7 linked regions of the Homo sapiens genome follow. The protein of the gene in region 1 purifies or fractionates together with the protein of each later gene. This does not show direct contact. Each region holds a gene or a part of one and is shown on either strand. Other genes may lie near its edges.

Region 1 (4,176 bases):
ACCACTGAAGCTCCTTGAAATGTGACTCTGACACTGGCCTCATCTCCCCACAGCTCTTTTCAGTGGCCTGCACCCATGACACTGAAGTACAGGCCACTCTCCAAATATTCCTTGCACTTGCACATCTCTTGCCTTTGCTCATGCTGTTTTCTTAAACAAGAATGCCCTTCCTCTTTTTACCTGCCTGGCAAACTCCTACTCATCCTTCAAGACCCAACTCCAATTCATCTCTGCAGACCTTCTCCTGGGACTCCTCCTTCCTCACTCCCTAGCCAGTTAGTCTCTCCCTCTTGTTTTTTCCCAAAAGTGCTTTGCACGAAGGCTTATTAGAGCACTATACTGTACTGAAACTCTGTGTGTGTGTGTGTGTGTGTGTATGTGTGTGTGTGTATGTGTATGTGTGTAACTGTGCGCTTTAAGGTAAGAGGGCAGGGTCCTGTGCCTCATACATTTCTTTATTTCCCAGCCCTGATACCTAGCAGGCATTCAAGAATAAATGAATCAATGCCTCTTCTCTAAGAGCATTCCCCCGCTCTGGCACACGCACATACATTCATGAAAACAGTTTACAATATTTAAAAAGCAACCTCCAGGGCAGGGCAAAACAGATTTCATTTGGTCTGGGGAAGGGATGGCTCAAAGAAAAGAAGCCATCTCAGTCAGGTGGGGTGAGTCAGAGGAGGAAGAATTCTAAGCCTTCTTTGGAAGCCCAGATGCTCCCTGCACCTGGACCCCATTCAATCCAAAGGGCAAACATTCTTGGCCTCAAAACACCAGCAATGGCTTTGCAACCCTCTTCCCTGTGTACCTACCCAGGGTGTGGCCACATACACCCACCCACTGCACACACACACACAGTCCAACTCCCCAGTCCCTCAGCCTGTGATCTTGCCGTTCAAGTGTTCCTTTCATGATTCTAATCTTGGCTGTATGCTTGGCTCTGTGTCCTTGAGCACTGCATTTACTTCCTCTGAACCTCATCTATAAGATGGGGATAATGATCCCTGCCCTGCCTACCACACATGAGAACTAGAGGAGACAAGAGATGGGAATGTTTTAGAAATTGCAAACATACAAGATAATTATCAGGCAGGCTGGTCACACTGTTTTCCTTTTCTGTCTCCACATCTTTCCTTTCCCCCCATATTACCAAGAACAACCATCTCTGTGTCTCCTTTCCCACTCCAGGTCTCCTAGCCTCAGAAGCAGCCAGGAGGTTCTTATTATTCTTCTTGATTCCCAGGAACCTCACCTTCTCCAGAAGCCTTCCTGTTTCCTACCCTCTATGATCATTCCCGCAGTCCCTTATCATTGAGGGGTACCATTCTGTAGTCCTGTAGCTGGTGGAGAACACATCAGAGGGGGAATCAGGAGACCTGGGTTCCTGCCCCTACTAGGCCAACACGTCTAGCCGTGCGTTTTGGTTAAGTAACTTTATCACTCTAAGTCTATATCCCTCTAGGCCTCATTTTCCTCATCAGTAAGATGGAGTTTCTTGTCTTGCTTCCCTCTTAGAAGGTATTTTGAGCACTCGCACATTAAGTTTATGGATGTGCTTTGAGACGTATAGACTGAGTGAGGGATGGAGAAGGTGATGGTTATCATCTCAAGGAGTCAAGAAAATCTGAAAGCAGCTTCTAGGCCCCCAGCATGGGTCTTCCTCCATCAGGAACAGACAAAGTGGACGGATGCAAGGAAATAAGGAGGAGCTCACACGTTTACAACATGCCTTTGTAGGTGAAGTGGAGAGAGCCCTGGGCTAGGACTGAGGAAACTTGGGTTCTAATTCTGTTTGGTCTCTGTTGTAACCTTAGGTAAATCATCTCCCCTGGGGCATCAGTTTCCCTATATGCAAATTAGTGGAGAGGATTTTAGGAGGGATACTCTGGTGGGCTTTCACGCAAGAACTAAACTCATTTATTTTCGAGATAAGAGACTCTGAGGTCCAATCCCCCTTTCCCCTTCTGTCCCATGGGGTATGCAGGCAACAGGAGCAGGAGGCCCGTTTTACAAATGGTGGCCCAGGAAAAGCGAGCACAAGGCGCAGAGCTGAGGGATGACTGCCCGGGTTTACACAGCCTGTAAACTAGAACTCAAGTCTCCCGACTCCCAGCCTCGACCTATGTTACTGGCAGCAGAAGATGCTTTTGGGAGTCACCAGGTTTCCCGGGACTAGGTCAGACAGGGTGAAGGACACAGTGAGGTGTAGAGGGAATGGGCAAGTCAGCTCCGCAGAGCCGGTGGCTCCAGCCAAATGAGACTGTGCTGGGTCCTGAAATGTCGTTTCTGCGTGTGCACTGGCTGCCAGCTGCAAGTGTTCGCTTGCACGTCTGTGGGTGTGGAGGAACTTTTCTTGTGGCCGTCTTGAGGGCTGGGAATAACGGCGCAAGTCCCCACGGTTTCCAGACGGGGCGCGCAGAGCCCAGCTCCCTACTCCCACATGCTGCTCCACGATCACTGCGCTCGGGAGGATCGGGGAGGATCCGGGAGGACTAGCTTGGTATTTGCAGCGCCCACCCCTCCCCCACTCCCCCTCGGTTCCACAGTCTCACGGAGAGCGCGCCGTGGCCCTTGGAAGGGAGGCGGGAAGACCCCTCATTTCCACCCCAGGCCGCAGCTCAGCCTTCCCAGCTGGGTGGGTGCCTTACCTGCCTCTCAGCAAGGCTCCGGGGCGCCCGTTTGCTCGCTGGACACGGCGCCCTCTGACCGAGGGTGGCCCAAGCGCTGCGACCCTGTGCATTCCACCAGCCCCGTTCCACTCCGCGGGTGCCCAGCACCGCCCAGCGCGCTCTCTGGCTCTGGGCTCCCACCCGCGCTCGGCTCCCTTTTCCCTCCCCCGGGCGTCCCCTCCCCCTGCCCCGCCCGGGCCCCAGCACACCCACTTCTCCCCGGGCTGGCCTGGAGTGCCTCCGCCCAGCTCCTTGGCCTCCCCCGGCTGTGGGCTCCGACCCTTCCGTCCCCTGCAGCGCCTGCTTCCTGGACCAGAGACCGAAAGCCTCTCGCTCCGCTGGGCCTCAGCAAGCCCAGCATGAGGCCGATCTCCAGGAGTCGGTTTTGCTCCAGTGTGGCTGTGTGGTGGTGGGCGAGTCGCTGCCCCTCACTGGGCCTTGGCCTGGCTGTAAAGTTGGTACAGTTCCTCCATGCATTCTTCACAGGCTTATGGTTGAGGTCAGATGAGACCTTTGAGTCCAAAGTATTAAAACCAAAGGGTCAACAGCAAAATAATATGATTCTTACACAAACTCTTTTCCACACAGGACGCAGAGGCCCAGTTGGAGAAGGGATTTGCCCAGGTAGCAGAGCCCAGACCCAAAATCCACTACACACCCCTCTGTCTCTGAGTAGCACCAGCAAATGTTTCCTCCACCAAGCCTCAAAAGTTCGTGACAGTGCCTGACCAACTTGTGTTCAGCCGCACCTTACTCATCTCTGTCCCAGAACAGTTTATTTTCCCACCACCATGCCCTCACTCAAACTGTTGTTTCCTTGCTGGTGACATTGCAGGCTTCAGAGAACTGGGGCAGCCGGGGCAGCTGAGGAATAAGAGCCAGGAGGCTAGTGGCAGAGGAAGGGACAGTTGCAGAGAATTTCTCCGGGGGACCCTGTGGGGTGCCCTTTTACCAGCTCACTGCCTCAGAATAATTAATAACAGCCTCAGGCCAGCTCTTTCACTCCCTTGCAAAGGTCTGCTCCAGGATATCTGAAGCACATACTCTCAATTACAGAATCCCAGAATATATCTAAGAAGTGCTATCGTTTTAAAAAGACCTACTACAAGGTGGGTATATTGTATATTGTATACAATATACAAGGTGGGTATATTGTACCCACCTTGTTTTGACCCTACTATTCCTTTTTCTCAGTCTGGAGATCACCTCTCAGAAAAGTCATCCTAATCACCTAAGCATGCAATCTCAGTTTCCTTCCTTCCTTCCTTTCTTTCTTCCTTCCTTCCTTCCTTCCTTCCTTCCTTCCTTCCTTTAGACAGGATCTCACTGTGTCACCCAGGCTGGAGTGCAGTGGAGTGATTATGGCTCACAGCAGCCTTGAACTCCTGGGCTCAGGTGATCCTCCTCCCTTAACCTCCTGAGTAACTGGGACACACCACTATGTCTGGCTAATTTTTGTATTTTATAGAAATTGGGTTACTCCATGTTGCCCAGGCTGATCTCGAAC
Region 2 (3,500 bases), on another chromosome or scaffold:
GAAAGGAAAACTTAATTTCTGCTTGTTTGTTTTTCTGATGTCTTTAAAGGAACATCCCTTAATGAGTACTGCAAAGGATACTGCAGAGCTGAGAAGGAATAAAAGAAAAAAAAGACAGGAGACAGGAATTTAGGGCCTGTCTACTTCAATACCTTAGTACCACACAAAACCTACCCACTCTAAGTTGTAAGAAGGGATTCTCTCTAAGTAGTTTGTCAAAATATTGCTTTTCTAACTGCTTCACCAGCACTCCACCCTCTCCCCATTCTATCAGCTCTAGAAGCTTTTTACAGTTATAAACACTTACTGAATATCAGCTACATGCGTGCCAGGTACTGTGCTATGCCATGGATAAATAAGGATACCCTATTCTCATAAAACGTCCCACCCTACAGGAAACAGAACCCTAACATCAGAAGCAAAGCAACCACATACCCCACTGTCAACTTTATTTTCAAATGATGCCTCTGCTCTTTTAATAATATCGCCAGTGATTTTCAACAAGTTAATCATTGTAAAGATATTGGGAAAATTAAATAGGCATATGGAATGTTCTCATCTTCCCTAAAATAACAATACAAACAAAGCATAAAATTAACTCTTTAATTTTTTTTCCAATCCCTGTGGTGTAAGTGACAGGCTCTTTTATATGCAAAGTTATCAAAGGTCAAACGTCTAAGCAGTAACACTTCAGAGGGTTTCTGATAGCTCACTATCTCGCTTCCAAAGCAAAAGCATTGCTGAGAACTGGCATGGAAACTTTTCTCTTTTCTTTTATTGCCTTTTTGTTGTCACAGAAGTTTTTTAAAAGGGAAATTCCTCTCACTCTCAAGAGGGATTCATCCGAAATACACATAACCAATGCATATGTAGTACTCTGGATTTCATTCATTAGAGCAAAAATGGGATCCTTATGAGGCTTCTGGAACCATGGGTACGACGAGATTGGAAACTTCCATTGAGAAACTAAATATGACCTTCAAAAGTAAAACTTCAAAGCCATACAAAGAAGAATAAGGACTGAGGAGGGTGGTATTCCAGCATCTCAGTGATGTTCTATCCATTTACAAAATAATGTTCTAAAGTCTGAACTCACACTGAAAAACAAAGAGTAAATATAGGATGATGAAGTTCCTACCTGCTCTGGTCTCAGGCCCGGGGGGACCCAGGCGTACTCCTCCAATGCACAGCCAGAGTCATCATCTGATGTGGAACTTCTCTGACAGCCAAAGGCCAGTTTGCTCATCTTGGGCTCCATCTCCAAAGGCATAAAGTTTAAAGCCTGGTTTCTCAGTCACAGGACATCAAACAATGGCTGCTGTGAACAATATAAGAAAAAACAAAGACATCTAAAACCTGAATGCATTTCTCTTACCCCCGACCCAGAGCTTTTATTGAATGCTGTTAACAGACAGCTGGGCCCAGAGAAAGTAACCAAATTACTACTGTCACCACCCCCAGGCCCCAGGCCCCCTGAAATTTAAAATTTAGAGCTATATAATTTGGTAGTAGTCTCTTTGCCAGCTCAGAATTTCAGAACATGCCACCAAAGCTAGTTTATTTCCAGGAGCCTTTAAAAGGTGCCTCTCTACAGTCGATTCCTTAGAAAAGTTCTCAAGAAAGTTGATGTGTTGACTTTCTAACTTGCCCACAAATCCTTGTGACATACTGTAAGTTGTAGAAAGAAGTGTCGGGGTCAGGCTACCTGCCTTGCCCACTACTATGCCCCAGGAAAAATGGCTCAAGACCCCACTCGGCACCCCTGTATTTCCTAAGCAATTTTTCCAACTGAGGCAGTGCTGCCTCCTGAGAGTGGGTCCACTCAGCCAAACTGCTTAGGTTTCAGATTTCTAATTATGTTTTGTAAGACACTAAACTGAGTTTACACACAAAATAGAAATAGCACAATTAAATCCTTATACTGCACATTAAATCCTCAAGCCTTTACTAAGGGCTAAAGTCAGTCAGACATTCATCAGTGAGTTCCTTCAACAAACAGTCACTGAATACAGTACTATGTGAAAATAAAATCCAGCTTGGTGACTGTTAATGTTTAATTGCATCATAAGCAGGCATTCGCTGAAAAGTTATGCAGTCAGTGCCTAGTATGTGTGAAATGTCATCAGCCTGCTATGGGCAGAGTAAGATGTAAATCCTCCTCTGAATAAAAAGCCTCCTTGGATGAAGGGCTATAAAAGTGTCAAGACAACATTCCCTGCCCTAGAACCCAGGAACTTTGCTATCACCATTTATGTTCTTTGTATCTTCTGATTATTAAAATCATCCCTCATCCCAGGGCACAAAGAAAAAAATAATAATAGCAGAACTTTCAGAACCAGATGGAGAGATGGAGCTTTTTTATACCTGGGCCTTTCACCCACAAAAAAATGATGTAAAGAAAGAAAATTATAGATAATTATCCCGACCCAATGATTTTAGAGAAAACAAGATTCAGGAAAGTCAAGAGACTTGTCCAAGGTCATATGGCTAAAAGCCAGAGTCTAGTCACACATACACACTGACATGTCAGACTTCCAAAAATTCTTCTGCCTCAATAAACATTCTTCCATCTCAGGAAGGATGTCAAAAAAAAAAAAAAAGTTCTCATTTGCTTAAACAAGTGTAAAAGGCAGTGAAAAGCCATACACTTTCAGCCTGAGACTAAGTCATTTTTCAGTGACTATCTCAATTCAACTCTAAATACTGAGTGTTGGAAAATACTACCTATTAAAACCTTTGATTATTGGCCGGGCGTGGTAGCTCACACCTGTAATCCCAGCACTTTGGGAGGCTGAGGCAGATGGATCACAAGGTCAGGAGTTTGAGCTCAGCCTGGCCAACATGGTGAAACCCCGTCTCTACTAAAAACACAAAAATTAGCCAGGCGTGGTGGTGGGTGCCTGTAATCCCAGCTACTCGGGAGGCTGAGGCAGGAGAATCGCTTGAAACCGGGAGGCGGAGGTTGCAGTGAGCTGAGATTGCACCCCTGGACTCCAGCCTGGGCGACAGAGCGAGACTCCGTCTCGAAAAAAATAAAATAAAATAAAACTTGATTAAAATTTATGGTTTTTCTTTTATAAATGATAGGACATTGAGAAAATTAACATTGTAACAGTTCATAAATGAAGGGCAAGCACCTCATAGCTACAATCTTTATTAGCAGTAGGAGCAATGCCACACATATATTATTCCAACTAATAAATTTAACTTTCATTCACCCTGAACAAGAAGTGAAGATGACCTCATTTCCTACACTACCATTGGGAGGTTATGACCTTTTAAACAAGGCATCATTTCACACAGGTGCGACTCATTCATGTCTTGACTAAGGAAAGGCTTTCTAAACATAGGCGTATTCCTCTGACTCCTCAATAAAAAAGGATGTGTTAATGAGTCAGAAAATGTCTTGGATATTTTGAAAAAACCACTCCCACATGTCAAAGGAAGAGAACCAGAGGTTAAGAATTTAATTAGTAACTCTAAAACTCCTACCAGGAGAA
Region 3 (3,462 bases), on another chromosome or scaffold:
TGCCTGGCATATAATACATGGTCAGAAAATAGCAACTATTATACTAAATTTAGTTTTTTTTTTTTTTGAGACGTAGTCTCGCTCTGTCGCCCAGGCTGGAGTGCAGTGGCGCGATCTCGGCTCACTGCAAGCTCCGCCTCCCGGGTTCACGCCATTCTCCTGCCTCAGCCTCCCGAGTAGCTGGGACTACAGGCGCCCGCCACCGCGCCCGGCTAATTTTTTGTATTTTTAGTAGAGACGGGGTTTCACCGTGCTAGCCAGGATGGTCTCGATCTCCTGACCTCGTGATCCACCCACCTCGGCCTCCCAAAGTGCTGGGATTACAGGCGTGAGCCACCACGCCCGGCCTATTTATTTTTTTTTATTTTTTATTTTTTGATGTATCATACTGAGTTATGAAAGTCATATTAGATAGAACATTTACTATTCTAGTGCAAACTCCCTAATTATCATACTAACAATTTCTGGTGACCTCTTAAAATAAAAAAACACAATTACTATTGTCATTAATATGATCTTTAATAAACGGAATAACGCACCATTTTACAGCAAGCCTTTTTAAACCTAAAGAACTGCCTTAAAATCTCCTTCTCCAATGTCTCTGTATCAATACAATCTTTTTATTTAGGTTTATATATATCAAAGCATTTACTTACACTTATTCATAGAAAACTCTTTAGTGGCTTAATGTCAGCTTTCATAGTGGCATCCATAGATAATACAAAAGAAAAGTGATTTGCTTTATTTTATACTCACACTGATCCATCAAACACAACTTATACAGCATAGCAAGGCTTCAGACAGCTTATACAAAAGCAAAATAACTGAAATTATTCATAAAGTCATATATGATAGTCTATCTGTAATGTAAGAGCAAAACACACCAACAAAAGATACCCGTTAACAAGAAAGAGGGTTCTGAGGAAGTGCGAGTATTTTCTAGCCTTTCTTTTTCCGGAAAAGCATCCTCAGAAGTGAATACTCCGTAGCTTATGTTTCTCCTGTCCATTCAGAAAAAGCATGACAGCTACGCATCTCCATGTTTCAGCTACTACAACACCCTAAGAGTTAGTGTATTTTACAATTATCCATGTATCTTTATTTGAAAAATTATCAGCAAAAAACTGAGGATGATTCCAGCTTACATAAACACTGATACAATATAATCTCTATGGAAATGAAATAACAAGGCATACAAAAATTGCTTAAATAAATAAATGTGGCCAGAAAAAGAAAAGCCACAGAAGTCAAGCAATTCAGTGTTAAACTGGGACCTATCTTTGAATTGCATCTTTTAGTAATTTTTTCTTACTGTTAAGCTTCTTTAAAAATATGTTTCCTTTACATACTTACGAGGATTGGTAACAAGGTGAAGAGCCTGAGACAAGAGACTGGTTACAGATAACTTCCTAGGATTTTAAGTATATAGCACATCAATTTAGAGCTTGAACTTGTCTGATTCAAAGAAAAATTCTGTTTGACAATGTGATAAATACAGGTTATTTTCTCAAAACCATCCAAGCTATTACTAAAGTTATAAAATATTTAGTTCACTTTTAGAAGGCTTTATAACGTTAAATTGTCTCTTGAGAAAATCCTATCTGACAGGAACTACTTTACCAAGTTCCCTTATTAAAAAACAAACAAAATGAAACAATTTGTCCCATATCATGTATGGTCATTTGACCAAAGAACAGAAATGTAAGTCGTTTTAAGTCAGTGCTTCAACTCTAAAGGCCTAAATTTGTTGCAACATGTAGCCAATTAGTTGAGTCATTCCCTCTGTTCAGTAATTACAGAACTGGGCAACTTTTTATAATTAATGAAATCTGATATTATATCTATGTGAAAAAGTCAAATAAGATGAAACATTAAATGAACTGTGCAACAAACACTTTAAATATTCAACTGGATCTAATTGCTTACTTGCTAACAATTGAACTTTTTCAGTGTACAAAGGGATGAAAGGGGCCCTGAGTTTTTAAGTAACATGATGTCTGTAGAATGCATCTAAAACATGAAGATGTTTCTGAAATCTAAAGGTATAAATAAAATGGATAAAACCCACATGTTGCCTTTTAAAACTGAAAACCAAATCAAGTTGTAGTTTCAAATACAGTAATTTGCTTAAAAATTCAATCATAAACTGGACACCCTAATGATGTGATTTTGTTCTGAAGATTCCTTCTCTCTTACCCAGATTTTAAAATGGGTTTCAAGTTGTTTTAAAAATGTGTATGTTCACAATGTTTAATAGTAACACTACAAACATCACAGTAATAACAGAATTGGACTTTTAAAGATACGATAGATTTATTTTGAGCCTAGTTTTAATATACAGCATAAATTCTTCTGAAGTACTTTCAAATGTATCTGCCATGAGATAAATTTCTAGGTTTTTCTCTATATGCACACTCAACTTAAATCAGTCACCTAAAAGTTAAATGAAAGTTGTATAGTCCAGTCTATGTTGCAAAATAATAAGTATTTCAAAAGTGGTCTACAAAAATGTCCATAGATAATACCTGATTAATGTAGGGTTTGCTTTTGAAAGTTAATCTTGCATTTAGTGTTTAATATTTCATACAAAAAATATGTAAAAGGTTGTGGCTCAATCATAAAACTAAGCTTGCTGCAATATGTTAAAAAATTTTAATGGCAAAATGATATACAATTCTGTGTGCATGGCTTTTTAGTTATAACTAATGAGAATATAAAATCATAAAATTCCACAATAGAAAATGTTAGATAACACAAAAATTAAGTGCCGATTTGCTGGTGGTCTGATGGTTGAATCCACTTTCAAATAGAAACATCTTAACTCTCGATTCTATCAAACTATCAAACTATTACTTAACTGGAGTAATGAATTTGAATATAAAAGAAAATATAATTCTATATTCTTAAATATAAAGTCATTAAAATAGGACTGAGGAGAAGAGCTTAAGCAATTTTGTCTGAAGAATTGAGACTTAAGTGTTCATTGAGAGGCCTGAAGCATACTGAAGACTAAGAATATTGGGGATGATGACCAACTGCTCTTTTTTGTCCTACTGGGTAAAAGAAAAAAATTTAAAATCAAAGAGGAGGGAGACAGAATAGATATGAAGAAAACTTTCCTGACACAGACTACAAATCAGATAACTGAGGTTTGGAGTAAGTCAGACATAAACTATGAGGTGATTTTTTTTGTTTTTTTTTGAGATGGAGTCTCACTCTGTAGCCCAGGCTGGAGTGCATTGGCGCGATCTCGGCTCACTGCAACAACCTCCGCCTCCCGGGTGCAAACGATTCTCCTGTCTCTGCCTCCCGAGTAGCTGGGACTACAGGCGCGTGCCACCATGCCTGGCTAATTATTTGTATTTTTAGTAGAGATGAGGTTTCATCGTGTTAGCCAGGATGATCTCAGTCCCCTGACCTCGTGATCCACCGTCTCGGCCTCCCAAAGTGCTGGGATTACAG
Region 4 (3,500 bases), on another chromosome or scaffold:
AAGAATGCCCCAAATGAATAGTATACCTTAGAAATCCTTTCAGCACAAGGCTTACAGTGTCTCATTCTTTCAAATATGATCTTATAATTTGCAAAGTTCATTTATAAGAAATTTATATATTAAAATATTCCTAAGAACAATTATACTAGGTAATTTCACAGTAGGTATTCAGGGTCTTAGAATAAAGTGGGACCTTGAAAATAAGTAACTTAAATTTTAGCTGAGTATTCTCAAGCTACTTTTATCAACTGTTTAGAATGAGAGGTATATGTGGCAGAATATTAACTAGAGCCAAGCTATGACAATTTGGCAGAGACTCTACCTCAGACTGTACGTCTAAACAAGTATTTAAGTAGTAACCTTGAATACTGTTTCCAAAAGCTTAACAAGGTGGTTTTATTTCCTTCAATGAGAATGTTTTCCATCAATAAAAAAGTTAACCCACATCTTGTACATAGAATACATTCACTTTGAACTCCATCAGTGGATAGGACAAAGCAATGTCCTTTAATAAATCCAACTACTTCCAAGTATAAAATAAATACAAATTTGTAAAAATTTTTAAAATAGAGATTATACATATAAGGAGATAGAAGAAGTAACATCCTGTGAATATATGCAGTACTTTAACCAAATACTGGTCATCAGATATATGATGCTCATATGGAGAGCTGAGAGGCTTAAAGAAGAGACAACAATAATTTATGATTAAAAATTAAGGTTGGCTGGGTGCGGTGGCTCATGCCTGTATCCCAGCACTTTAGGAGGCTGAGGCCAGCATATCACGAGATCAGGAGTTCGAGACCAGTTTGGCCAACATAGTGAAACCCGGTATCTACTAAAAATACAAAAAATCAGCCGGGTGTGGTGGTGTGCGCCTGTAATCCCAGCTACTCAGGAGGCTGAGGCAGGAGAATCACTTGAACCTGGGAGGCAGAGGTTGCAGTGAGGCGAGATCACACCACTGCACTCCAGCCTGGGCAACAGTGCCAGACTCCGTCTCAAAAAAAAAAAAAAAAAAATTAAGGTTGACAGGTTTGCCAGCCTGCTTCTGAGCTTTCTATCTCCAATAGCTGGTAAGTGGTAACATAGTTATTATTCTTTGTAGACTTGCTCGATCAGAATTACATTTTTGTAGCTCAGAAGATTCACAGTTCCTGTTTCGTATCAAATAGAAAATTCTGGGTCGTACTAAATATTTATAAACTTTCATACTACATAATCGATGTTTTTTAGGGTACAGGATGCCAAAACCATTTAACCTCAAAATCCTCTTGTCTATACATATGTACTTAACAATATGCATATTGTTAGCAAATACAGATGTGAGAGAAAGATAGTATTCTTGAGAGAACTGCATGCCAGGAAGTGCTAGCTTTTAACCTTTGTGTTTTTAATCAAGTAACAGATATTGTTTAAGAAGGTATATCTGAATATACTGTAATGTAAATTTTCAATGAAATAACTTCAGCCCTGAGACATAATGAGATACCAAAGTTTAAAAATCCCAAGTATGTAATAAAACACCAAATTTTAAAATATAACTTTTAACATTTCCTTTTACTTTTCTGAAGAAACATTTAAGATGCACTGTTATAATAAGGTAAACATTGAAACTGAATATATTTGAATTCAAAACTACAGATTTTAATTACTTTTTACTTAAATATTTTAAGCAATTAACAATTTAACCACAGCACCTTATCAGCATCGTAGTATCTAGTAATTCTATTTTTATATCAAAGAAGTATACATTTTTGTCCATTTTTGAATAATTAGTAAATCAGTAGCGTTTGCTTATATTGAATAACCTTGATTGTGAACAATATAAGCAACTCTAATGGACTATTTAGAAAATCGTAATGTTCTAATTAGAAAATACCAGTATCAACAATGTTATTTGTTGAATGCAAATGATAATTACTTTCAGCAATCAACTAAATACCAGATTGACTACAAGAAAGAGAATAAAGGACACCAACTCACCATTAAACAACATTTACTGACTCTATGACCCACCCACCACAATGTTAGCAACAGGGATAATATTTATATAAAAGAGAGTGGGCATGAGCTATGTGTTTCACATCTCTATGTTCCTAAGGTCAGTGGATGATTCATTAAGGAGTTTGTCACCTTTATGAATTCTTTATGTTTAACTTAAGAAATGGATACTCATTTTGTTTGGGGGTTGAGGTAAAACGGGTGGGTCAAATAGATTACCCGAAATAAACATAAACTCATATTCTTTTTCTCCCTTATCCCCAAAAGTGTGTTAAATATAATTCATTGTGGAGAAAAGAAATTGTTAAGTGTGAATCAATTTTATAAAATTAACTGTAATATGGTGGTAATGAAAGATGGTAGTCTGTAAGCAGAGTTCTGGCCACTATTTTGTATATTTAAAAGGTCTATGCAAAAGCTTTGTGATGAATAAAGGAGATTAGGCTTAAAAAAAGTTAACTGCAACAATTTTACCTTCAATTTTTATGATATGGCTCCTTGCATTTGAAAAAGGCTATAGATAGTGATAACTGAAAGAGTAACTGATGGTCCTTTTCACCCTAAGCACAGAGGAAGAGTTCTTCTGTATGCTTACTATTTGTAGTCTGTTACTATTTCTGACCCTGACTCTTGAATTCATTGCCTCTGCTCAGAATCACTCAAGAGTTTAAATTACACTTCTGCTAGACATTTTAAAGAACATATTATACTCATTACACATTCACAGTTAAGGATGGAATCCTTAACAATGAAGGATATAAAACAACTTTTGGTATAATCAAGGATATAATACAACTCGAAAATTGTCTATCATAATCTTCTTAGCTGTTACCAATTGTATGATGTCATATTTACATATGAATGACTTCAACACCTCAATAATCTATGGATTTGTAGTACTGTGATTCTCTTGAAAGCCAGAGCTTATGTAATACAAAATAATAAAATTATGGATTTTACAAAATAATATTCTCTGGCTAAATATTCTTTTTTTTTTTTTTTTTTGAGACAGTGTTTCACTCTTGTTGCCCAGGTTGGAGTGCAATGGCGCAATCTCGGCTCACTGCAACCTCCACCTCCTGGGTTCAAGTGATTCTCCTGTCTCAGCCTCCCAAGTAGTTGGGAGTATAGGTGTGTGTCACCATGCCTGGCTAATTTTGTATTTTTTTTTTTTTTTTTTTTTTAGTACAGATGGGGTTTCACCATGTTGGTCAGGCTGGTCTCCAACTCCTGACCTCTGGTGATCCACCCACCTCGGCCTCCCAAAGTGCTGGAATTACAAGCGTGAGCCACCAAGCCTCGCCTCTGGCTTTCAAAAGAGAGAATCACAATAATACAAAAATTTAAACCTGTTAAAATAACACTGTCCATATCCCAACAGCTCCTAAACACGTTAACTAAAATGGCATAATAAATTTGCCTGAGTTCATGTATGCCTTAATAAATAATCTTCAGAAAAAAATTTTAATCATTTTATTTTTCTATATTAACCATTT
Region 5 (3,500 bases), on another chromosome or scaffold:
GTTAGTGACACAGCTGCTTAAATAGAAGACATCTGCTTCAGTCTTGAAGCCACCAAGGATCAGCCGAATGAGGCTGTTCCAGCCCTCCCACGGTGTCTAATTTATGAGGCCAGGGGCCCTGGGATCTCTTGCACTGATGCAATGTAGCCCCCAGCCCCTAACACAGTCCCTAGCACATGGTAAGCTAAAAGCAAGTAACTATTGAATGGGTAATTGCAAAATGCTGTATCACTAGCTATTATTTATTATGGAAATCTAAAGTAAGTATTATGCCCTGCTCTATCATTTACATATTAATTATATGTGATAATGAGGTAGGCCAACAGGTGGAAAGCAATCTGAAATAAAATCTCCTCCTCTCTCAGTGTTCATGGGGTCAGGGAGCTTCCTGTTTTCCCCATCAAGATATTTATCACACTGGACTGCAACTGCACACTTCCTCGTTTGCCTTCCCTGCTGGACTTTTGCTTTGTGAGAGGGGAACATGCCTTTCTTGGTCCCCACTGTCCCCAGATATCTAGAACAGCACGTGGCAGTCAGTGAGTGCTTCCTAACCATTCAGTGAAAGGCAGAGGAAATGACTTCATCCCCATCACTGATGTGGGAACAGCTCTCCCTGCTTTGCAAGCTGCTTGTTGAAAGGTGAATAGGGAACATTCATGAGCACTTAACACTTCCTCAAAAGAAGTCTTACATTCACCCAGGAGCAGGACGCTTCAGAGAGGAATCCCTCGAGCATGCCACCCACCCCTAAAACAAGGCCGAGATTCCAGCCCAGCTCTGCCACTTACGAATGATAGAACCTTAGGAAAGTGCCATAACCCACCGCAACTCACGCAGTTTGCTCATCCGTAAAATGTAGACAATGAATCCAGGACTTACCTTGAGTAGGTTTGTAAAGAGTAAATCAGAGCCATGCATGAAAAGTCCCCAGACGGCCGGGCGCGGTGGCTCACGCCTGTAATCCCAGCACTTTGGGAGGCCGAGGCGGGTGGATCATGAGGTCAGGAGATCGAGACCATCCTGGCTAACAAGGTGAAACCCCGTCTCTACTAAAAATACAAAAAATTAGCCGGGCGCGGTGGCGGGCGCCTGTAGTCCCAGCTACTCGGGAGGCTGAGGCAGGAGAATGGCGTGAACCCGGGAAGCGGAGCTTGCAGTGAGCCGAGATTGCGCCACTGCAGTCCGCAGTCCGGCCTGGGCGACAGAGCGAGACTCCGTCTCAAAAAAAAAAAAAAAAAAAAGAAAAGCCCCCAGACTTATGCACAGCCTTGCATGTTACCTTTGAGCTGTGGGACGATGTCCTCTTTCCCTGCATAAGGGTCACAGCGAAAGCGGTCCAGGCGCTCGATGGTGCACTGGCCGACGACAGGCTTCCGCCCAAACTGCCTGTGGTCGATGACCTTGATCACCAGTGGGGGCATGTACAATTCCTCCTTGGGCAAGAACTGGGGGTCACAAAGGTAGGTTTCATTTCTCAAGACCAGACGAGGGCAGCTTTGAGAAAAATTCCCCAGATGGACCAGTCCAGATTCTCTCTGCCACACAGCCCAGAGGACTCGCAATAGTTCAGTTACTCATGTGCCAGGCAAGGAGCTCCGTGCTTAAGAGCGTGAGCTGTCAGCCAGACTGCCTGGGTCAAATCCTGGCACTGCCACCATGAACTACCTGGCTAACCCTTCCATGCCCCCATTATTTCATGAGTAATAGTAACATTGTTGAATTACTCTATGTGAAGAGTACTTAGAATAGTACCTGACCCATGCTGTGTCCTGTAAGTGTGGAATCACTGACCCATGCTCTTTACTCTCAGTCACTGCCCTATACTCTTCCCTGTGCTCTGCTTCCTGGGAGGGGACATGCACAAGGCTAACTAGCCCAGGGCTTTGGTCATCTACTAGCCAAGTTCTGAGCAGACTTTAGAAATGGTCAAGACAAAACTGAACTTCTAAGGGAAATAACTGTGGCTGAGAGTCTCTTTGCCCTGGAAATTCAGTGTAAAAATGGATTGCTACTTTCTCCTCAACTCCCCCTGGCTCCCTCTCATGGAATTTGGTGGCTTTGGTGACAATGCCTGATTGGGGAATCATGAGCTGACCTAGGGGCCCATTTGGTATGTGGTTCAGGTGAATTTCTATCTCTGGCTTGACACAGGAATAGAAACTGGGGTCACCTGAGTGGTTTTTCTCATCTCTGCTGACCAAGGCTAGATTCCAGACTAGAACTTGGAAGGTGAGGGAGGTGTGGGGAGTAGACAAGGATAGGTGGAGTGGCCCAGGGACAACCACTTTGGGACCCTGGCTGGCAGCATCCCGGTGGCTCGCCGTCTGTCGCATGATAGGGAGGGGAGCATGGGCATTGGGGTTGTAAGGACCTATGTGCAAACTCTGGCCACTCACTTGCTAGCGACATCCCCTTGTGTAAATCTGTTACCTCTTGCTTTTCCCCAAGGTGGGCATAAGAGAGGTGAAAATGTTCACCCCGCAGGATTAAAGACGAGGTGTACCAAGTAAGAATGCACCAAGCCCTACACTGCAGCTGTCACTAGTTAGGACATAGTCACTGTGGTATAGAAGGTGTGGCCTAACACTATGACACTGGATAAATCATTTCCCCTCTTTAGGCCTCAGTTTCCTCCTCTGTAATGTAAAATAAGAGGTTAAAGCACGTGACCCTAGAGTTCAAGAGCACTGTATTGGAGACATCAAGGTCAGGAAAATGACTGGGGTGGGGAAAGGAAGGTTCTAGGTCTTCCAACACTTCAAGGTAAGAAACTGTCTTTATGTCACCTATTTATATAATAGAGTAAAAAAGAAAGATTTTTTTTTTAAAGTTAAGAAATTAACTGCTTTAAAAATGGAAAGACTGGGTGGCCTCTTCTCACCCCAGGTATTATGGGGTCTGTGATGGAGAGCTGTGAACTGGATCTGATGCTCTCACATCTTTAACAACCAGAGGGTAGCCTCAATGGACCAAAGAAGGTGCCATCCCAGGGGCACCTGGAGGTGGGGCACAGTTATGGGCTGCCAAGGTCATGGCCCTATCACCCCATATACCTTCCCCCACAGCTGCCCCTTCCCCAGACAGCCAGTCCTTATCCAGAAGGTTCTGGTCCATGCACAGTTGTAGGGGGTATATCTGGTCCATGCATGACTGGGGGTTAATATTCTGCCTTCATGGGGTTGACCAACAGCTTGTAATAGATAGCTGAATAGATGGAAAGTTTACTGGAGAAATAAGTAAGTATTGCTCACAGATATTTCTGTGCCACTGGAGTTATTTTGAAGCTTTAAGAAATCATCACTACAGTGGGAGAATTTAAGGGGAAAAAGTCACTGACAAGCTGAATATAAGGCAGGGTTTTTCTATTTGTCAGGTTTTGGAAATAAACTCTGTGTTTGTGTGTGTGTGTGTGAGGCACATACTTTCATATTTCAACGCGCATGGGTGATCACAGAGAATCGATACTGTACCACTTTCATGAAGAGAACAGAACTTGG
Region 6 (3,500 bases), on another chromosome or scaffold:
GAGTGGGTGTGGCTTGGGGGGAGGGGAGGGATGCTCGATGCCTCCCTTTCCCAGACCCTTATGTAGAATGAGGAATCAAGGCTGGGCAAAAGTAATGGGGTGGGGCTGGGGGCTGATAATGAGGCCAGAATCTCCCATCCGGCTGTGCTTTTGTCCAGCCGCTTTGTTGCTGCCTTTGTCTGGGCCCTGCTTGTGGGTTGGGAGGATGGATCCAGGTGTCTCTGACCTTGAAGCCTGCAGCCCTCCCGTGAGACTTGCCTCCCTGCCGGGGTACCCACACTTTACTGGGTACAGCCTCCCAGTCAAGATGTACTAGCCTTTCCTAGTGTGCCGGGGAGGATGGGACGTGGGCGGCCCAGAAGAGAGGAGAGTAGTACCACTGGAAGTTGGGAAGCCTGCTCAGTGAAATCCTGTTTAGAGGCCTGGGAATGGAGAAGTTTTGGAGGGAGGGGCCTGTTCCTCCTTCCTTCTCCTAGGAATTGGGCTTTCAGACCTGGATTAAGACATAGGGACAAGAGTTTATTGGACTTTTGAGGGTTGGGGGCCCCTACTCTGAGTGTGATCCGGGAGTCCCCTCTGGGAACCTGGAGTTGAGTCCAGGGTCAGTCTGACTCCTACTGCTGGGTGACCTTAGGCAAGGCCTTGCCCCTTTGAACCGTTTCCCCACTTGTAAAATCTGGGGATCTCGGGCACTGGTCTGGTTGGATCTGTTGGGGGCCTCCTAGCTCTGACCTGTGGGATTCCTGCAGACTCCCTAGGGCAGGAGCTCTGGCTGTTGACGAATGGGCTGAGGGAGGAGGAAAGGCAGGTTTCTGAACTGAAGACCCTGCTCCTGGAGCATGGCCCTTTAAAGGGCTTGTTTTGTTCCCGTCCCTTTATAAGGTGTTACCAAGGTCACATGACCCTTCCAGCGCTTTTGCTTATGTTGTGGGTTTCATTTAAAGGGGGGGCTGGGGCTGCAAAGTGCTGACACAGCCCCCCATCCCCAGGATTAGATGGCCAGCCCCTCCACAGGCGGGGCTTGTAACAGGATCCTTTGTAATGGATCCCTGGCTCCTCTGCAACAGGGGCCAGGGCCAGGGCCAGGGCCTCCAGGAGAGGGGGATACCTGGGACTATTTCCCCAAGAGAGACTGGAGCTCCCTTGGGCGGGTGGAGGGGCCTGGGTCTTTCTTCTCCCCTCCCCTGCCCATCCTTCCACTAAGGGGCAGCCACATGGGTGAGTAGGGGACCCAGGAGGCTATCTCCTTGGTCTGCATCCCCCCTAGGATTTTCTGGGAATATGGTTGTAACTCATGCCAGCTGTCTCTCCTTCCTGATTTCCCGTGATATCTTCTTCCTGGACCTGGTTCAAGTGGTGGCATGAAAAGAGTGGTTTGTTTTCCTGTGAAGTGGGGTTTTGGGTATGGAGGCGAGAGCAATGTATTTACTATGGGCTATGTGTATACTCGGGATGTTTTTTGTGGGGCTCTGAGTGACGTGTGAGTACATAGTCGTGTGTATACTTGGTTACTGTTTGTGTATATACAGAGCAGGGACTGTGGGTGTTGTGTGTTTACGTGCGGGCTGGGTGTGCTTGGTGTGTGTACCTATGTGTGTTTATACTCGGATGCCCTTTGTTTATATACATGAATGACATCTGTGAGTGCTGTGTACGTACACAGTAGACCTGTGTACCTGTGTGCCCTGTGTGTGGGGCCTTATATGGGGCCCTTTGTGTGGTGTGGGTACTCAGATTTATGTACACTTGGGTGTAGTTTGTGTATATGGGGGCTGTGTGTGTTGAGTGTTTACTCCAGAACTGTGGGTTATGTGTCCAGACTGGGGAAGGGGGCATTGCTTGTATATGCAATGGCCGTGTGCAGTCTGGGGACCATGACTGCCCTTGCCGTGAGACCTGTGCCCCTGCAGGGCCCAGATGCCTTTACCTCATTTCCCTTCCTCCTCCCTCCTACTAGGCTCTGCCAAGGCTGAGAATGACAAACATCTAAGTGTAGGGCCTGGCCAGGGGCCAGGGTCTGCAGTGGATGAGCACCAGGACAACGTCTTCTTTCCCAGTGGGCGACCCCCCCACCTGGAAGAGCTGCACACTCAGGCCCAGGAGGGGCTCCGCTCCCTACAACACCAAGGTAAGCTTCCTCTCCACTCCCCTCCCCTCTCCTCCCTCCAGTGCTGCACTGTCAGCTGTCAAGGTCAGGGGCCTAACCCAACAGACCCTTCTGGTGTCTTCCAGAGAAACAGAAACTGAACAAGGGTGGCTGGGACCATGGAGACACCCAGAGTATCCAGGTGAGCCCTGCCTCCAGCTCAGTCCTGACTCTTCTCTACCTGCTTGACCCCTGGCAAGGATGTCTTGGAACATTTCTGGGTCTCAGTTTCTTTATCACAAAGGGCTACACTAAATGAACCCTGAGGGCTAGTTCAGGGTTGCTCAGTGCTAGGTGATGCTGGAGGGGATCTGTGACTCAAAAGTTCGAGTGGGAGGCTGGGCGAGGTGGCTTACACCTGTAACCCCAGCACTTTGGGACGCTGAGGTGGGCGGATCACTTGAGGTCAGGATTTTGAGACCAGCCTGGCCAAAGTGGTGAAACCCTGTCTCTACTAGAAATACAAAAATTAGCCAGGCATGGTGGGAGGGTACCTATAATCCCAGCTGCTTGAGAGGCTGAGGCAGGATAATCGCTTGAACTTGGGAGGCGGAGGTTGTGGTGAGCCAAGATTTCGCTACTGCACTCCAGCCTGAGCTGGATTTGTCTCAAAAAAAAGTTCCAATGGGGAGCCTTGAGGAGACAGCCCCACCCAGATCTCCTTCTACCCTGATAGTCCTCCCGGACGGGGCCGGATGAAGACAACATCTCCTTCTGCAGTCAGACCACATCCTACGTGGCTGAGAGCTCCACAGCAGAGGACGCGCTCTCCATCCGCTCGGAGATGATCCAGCGCAAAGGTGGATTCATGGGCAGGGGAGAGGGACAGTGGGCTCCATTGGGTCCCAGCATCTGTAGCTTCTTTTCCTCCTTATCCAGTGTTTCACCAGGCTCTCTGATTCAATGAATTCGGGAAACACAGTACCCTGTGTCCTCTTGCACATTCGTGATACACACTAACTATAAAGCAGTTAAGAGTTAGAAAATCTTGGCGGCCGGGTGCGGTGGCTCACGCCTGTAATCCCAGCACTTTGGGAGGTCGAGGTGGGCGGGTCACGAGGTCAGGAGATCGAGACCATCCTGGCTAACACGGTGAATGAAACCCCGTCTCTACTAAAAATACAAAAAATTAGCCTTGCCTGATGGCGGGTGCCTGTAGTCCCAGCTACTTGGGAGGCTGAGGCAGGAGAATGGCGTGAACCCAGGAGGTGGAGCTTGCAGTGAGCCGAGATTGCACCACTGCACTCCAGCCTGGTCGACAGTGTGAGACTCCATCTCAAAAAAAAAATAAAAAAAGAGTTAGAAAATCTTAACTGTTGGAAGCCTGGTGTAACTAACTAGTGCCAGCTGTGTG
Region 7 (3,500 bases), on another chromosome or scaffold:
CAACACCAAAAAATAAAACAAAATTGATTTTTAGAGTTCCAGATACATTTCTTACTAATCTTTAGTTGGGTATGTATGTTACAAATCTGTATTCTAGTTCTGTTTGTTTCTGCTGTCTTTTATTGTAAAGAAAATGTGGGTTTTCACTTAGTGATATTTGTCATTCTCCCTTAATTTTATTTTTCTTAAGAAAGGCTTCAGGGCTGAGTGTGGTGGCTCACACCTGTAGTAAAGAAAAGAAACCCTTCTCCACCCTGAGGTTATACAGATATTTTCATATTTTCTTCTGCAAGTTTTACTAAACTTTTGATTTTCACATTTAGGTCTTTGATCCACCAGGAATTAATTTTTGTATAAGGTCTGCGGAGGAATTGAATTGGATAACCAGTTGACAATAGACAATAATCAATTGTCTAATCACTGTGGATTGAATTGTCTGTTTTTTCCCCACTGTTTTATAATTGTCTTAGCTATTTTGGGCATTTCAAATGGATTATATGACAGATTGGTTAAAATCATTATACAAGGGAATTTCTTGTAGGTTTTTAGGATGTAAGAGAAAAGACATTATAATTTTATTTTTGTTTCACATCAGCTGATATTGATGGTTTAAAATATATTTTTATTCCTTAATAACATTTAATGATAAGCTTATGTATAATTTGTAAGTAAGTCAAGAAGAGAATGATTTTCTGCCAGTGAATATACAACATAATACTATAGCAGTGTAGTTAGGTGGATGTGTCTCTAGCATGGCTTTTGTTTAAATAAAGGACCTCAGAGGTGTTGCGTGTAATAGGCCTTGTGGCTGGGCGCGGTGGCTCATGCCTATAATCCCAGCACTTTGGGAGGTCGAGGTGGGCGGATTACAAGGTCAGGAGTTCGAGACCAGCCTGACCAACATGGTGACACCCCATCTTTACTAAAAATACAAAAATTAGCCGGACATGTGGTGCATGCCTGTAGTCCCAGCTACTCGGGAGGCTGAGGCAGGAGAATCACTTGAACCCGGGAGGCAGAGGTTGCAGTGAGCCAAGATCGCGCCACTGCACTCCAGCCCGGACGACAGAGCGAGACTCCATCTCAAAAGAAAAAAAAAATAGGCCTTGTATATAAGTATGTAGGGTAGGATATCAAACTCTGGTTACTTGACAAGTGATGGTTCTAACCACCTATTACCCAGGTATCAAAATGAAACTTAAGGATATATCATTTCTTTATCTCTTGTTATTTTTTTCCTCCTTGGTTGTCTATTGTCCTTTAATCTGACCACTTTTCTTCTCCCCCTTCCTTGATTTTTCATTTTGTCTTAAGTTAAAAAGCTTTTATTTTATTTTATTTTTTCTTCTTTTTTGAGACACAGCCTCACTCAGTCGCCCAGGCTGAAGTGCAGTGGTACAATCTCAGCTCACTGCAGCCTCTGTCTCCTGGGTTCAAGCAATTCTCCTACCTCAGCCTCCTGAGTAGCTGGGATTACAGGCACCCACCACCATGCCTGGCTAATTTTTAATTATTTATTTATTTATTTTTTTCTAGAAATGAGGTTTCACCATGTTGTCCAGGCTGGTCTTGGACTCCTGACCTCAAGTGATTCACCTGCCTCGGCCTCCCAAAGTGCTGGGATTATAGGAGTGAGCCACCATGCCTGGCCTAAGTTACAAAGTCTTTAAAAGTGTTTTTGCTTACAGTCTTTTTCCTGTTATAAAAATATCAGCTAATTGGCAATATTTGTCCAACACCATGGGTGAGAAGGATATTAGTTCCTGAGGCATTTTGGTATTGTTGAAACATTCTTTTCCCTCATCCTTTGTTTTTTAGGATTAAGTTTCACATTGACTTATTGGCATCTGCTATCTTTTTTGGTGTAGTAAGTGTTGCTCCCAGCTTTTAGACTTCCTTTAGCGTTATTTTCTTAATGGGTCTGTGGCTGCTATGCTTAAAGGACAAGCACCTCTCTGTCCCTATAGCACCTTGTGGAACATTTACAGTTCTTCACCATGGAGACCTGTTATGGCGATCTCTGTTGCATTCAGGGAGGCCTTTCTTTAGTTTCCTCCAGTTAAGAAATGTTGAAAATGAAGTGTCTTGTGAAGTAGTTCCAGTTCTTACTGACTTTTAATGCAAGCTCAGAACTGTGTTTAATCTCATATTTAAAAAAAGCATGAAGGGAAATGATGAAGGATTTAAAAAATTTTATTATGTACAGTCTCCCTCATATTTAGTGTAATTTTTAAATGATAGCAGTTGGATGAAAAATCTGTTATTCAGTGAAATTGTTATTGTATCTGAAAACTCGCAAACTATTTTCTTGGTCGGTAAACGTACCCTTAGTAAGCACTTGCTTATTTTCATTTGCAATATGAGAATTGTAGTGACTCAGAATTTTACTTCTCATTTGTACTAAAAGTTTTTTTTATTCTTATCTGGAGCAGCAGCTTTTACTTTCATTTGTCATGGGATGAATTATCTTAACCTTCTCTTCTAAAAAAAGATCTGCTTAAAGAAATCTAGCATGTGCAGTGTTTTGGTTTGTCCCCAGCAGTACTAAGTCCTTGAGGTGGAGGGTTGAAGGGGAAGAACTTTTTTTTTTTCAAACATTAATACCTTATTAGGTTCTCTTAAGTTACCTGATAATGAATAAACCTTTATATTTAATGGAGAGATTGAACCTAAGAAGGTCATTGTGGCAGATATCTGGGAATGGCCATTGTCCCCTGAAAATTATTGACATTCTGAAGTGGCCACCTGCTTATAGGTGTTAAGAATAGGCTGTGTATATATGTATGTAGGGTAGGATATCAAACTCTGGTTACTTGACAACTATCAGTTCTAACCATCTATCACCCAGATATCAAAATAAAACTTAAGGATATATCATTTCTTTATCTCTTGTTATTTTTTTCCTCCTTGGTTGTTTTTTGTCTCTGAATCTGACCACTCCTCTTCTTCCCCTGCCTTGATTTTTCATTTTGTCATATTACTCCAGTTTTATGTCAGAAATTTGTCACTACATGATGATGTAGTCTTAAAATTTTTAGCTATTCTAGTGGGTATGTCATTGTGGGCTTTGTCGTTGTTGTTGTTGTTTTTGAGACAGAGCCTTGCTCTGCCCCCCAGCCTGGAATGCAGTGGCGTGATCTGGGCTCACTGCACCCTCCACCTCCCAGGTTCAATCTGGGACTACAGATGTGCACCACCATGCCTGGCTAGTTTTTGTATTTTCAGTAGAGACAGAGTTTCGCTGTGTTGGCCAGGCTGGTCTGCAACTCCTGGCCTTATGTAATCCGCCCGCCTTGACCTCCCGCAGTGCTGGAGTTACAGGCATAAGCCACTGTGCCCGGCCTTCATTGTAGTTTTAATGTGCATTTACTTGATAACTCTTGATTTTGGGCACGTTTAAATATATTTATTTGCTAAATGAATGTTCTCTTTTTCAAAGTACTACTTGTTTAAATATTTTGTCCATTTTTCTTTTCACTTAATTTTCACAACTCTTTTAA

The links.
Region 2: the proteins of KCNE3 (region 1) and PRICKLE1 purify together in Homo sapiens (co-immunoprecipitation; 2 studies listed by BioGRID and IntAct, with this or other methods). This does not show direct contact.
Region 3: the proteins of KCNE3 (region 1) and BMPR2 purify together in Homo sapiens (co-immunoprecipitation; 2 studies listed by BioGRID and IntAct, with this or other methods). This does not show direct contact.
Region 4: the proteins of KCNE3 (region 1) and MLF1 purify together in Homo sapiens (co-immunoprecipitation; 2 studies listed by BioGRID and IntAct, with this or other methods). This does not show direct contact.
Region 5: the proteins of KCNE3 (region 1) and MYOF purify together in Homo sapiens (co-immunoprecipitation; 2 studies listed by BioGRID and IntAct, with this or other methods). This does not show direct contact.
Region 6: the proteins of KCNE3 (region 1) and NHSL3 purify together in Homo sapiens (co-immunoprecipitation; 2 studies listed by BioGRID and IntAct, with this or other methods). This does not show direct contact.
Region 7: the proteins of KCNE3 (region 1) and STAM2 purify together in Homo sapiens (co-immunoprecipitation; 2 studies listed by BioGRID and IntAct, with this or other methods). This does not show direct contact.

The regions. Positions count from the first base shown.
Region 1 is NC_000011.10:74,464,750-74,468,925, forward strand, and holds the start of KCNE3 (potassium voltage-gated channel subfamily E member 3), read right to left. Parts: upstream 2,801-4,176; 5' UTR 2,741-2,800; coding exon of another isoform or gene 2,649-2,740; intron 2,573-2,648; exon of another isoform or gene 1-2,572. UniProt on the Homo sapiens protein: Ancillary protein that functions as a regulatory subunit of the voltage-gated potassium (Kv) channel complex composed of pore-forming and potassium-conducting alpha subunits and of regulatory beta subunits.
Region 2 is NC_000012.12:42,471,247-42,474,746, forward strand, and holds part of PRICKLE1 (prickle-like protein 1), read right to left. Parts: intron 1,319-3,500; 5' UTR 1,271-1,318; coding exon 1,139-1,270; intron 1-1,138. UniProt on the Homo sapiens protein: Involved in the planar cell polarity pathway that controls convergent extension during gastrulation and neural tube closure.
Region 3 is NC_000002.12:202,564,788-202,568,249, reverse strand, and holds the end of BMPR2 (bone morphogenetic protein receptor type-2 precursor), read right to left. Parts: 3' UTR 501-3,462; downstream 1-500. UniProt on the Homo sapiens protein: On ligand binding, forms a receptor complex consisting of two type II and two type I transmembrane serine/threonine kinases.
Region 4 is NC_000003.12:158,574,194-158,577,693, reverse strand, and holds part of MLF1 (myeloid leukemia factor 1), read right to left. Parts: intron 1-3,500. UniProt on the Homo sapiens protein: Involved in lineage commitment of primary hemopoietic progenitors by restricting erythroid formation and enhancing myeloid formation.
Region 5 is NC_000010.11:93,346,335-93,349,834, forward strand, and holds part of MYOF (myoferlin), read right to left. Parts: coding exon 3,474-3,500; intron 1,449-3,473; coding exon 1,283-1,448; intron 1-1,282. UniProt on the Homo sapiens protein: Calcium/phospholipid-binding protein that plays a role in the plasmalemma repair mechanism of endothelial cells that permits rapid resealing of membranes disrupted by mechanical stress. Involved in endocytic recycling.
Region 6 is NC_000001.11:32,765,830-32,769,329, forward strand, and holds part of NHSL3 (NHS-like protein 3), read left to right. Parts: intron 1-1,957; coding exon 1,958-2,128; intron 2,129-2,232; coding exon 2,233-2,288; intron 2,289-2,822; coding exon 2,823-2,946; intron 2,947-3,500. UniProt on the Homo sapiens protein: Able to directly activate the TNF-NFkappaB signaling pathway.
Region 7 is NC_000002.12:152,165,764-152,169,263, reverse strand, and holds part of STAM2 (signal transducing adapter molecule 2), read left to right. Parts: intron 1-3,500.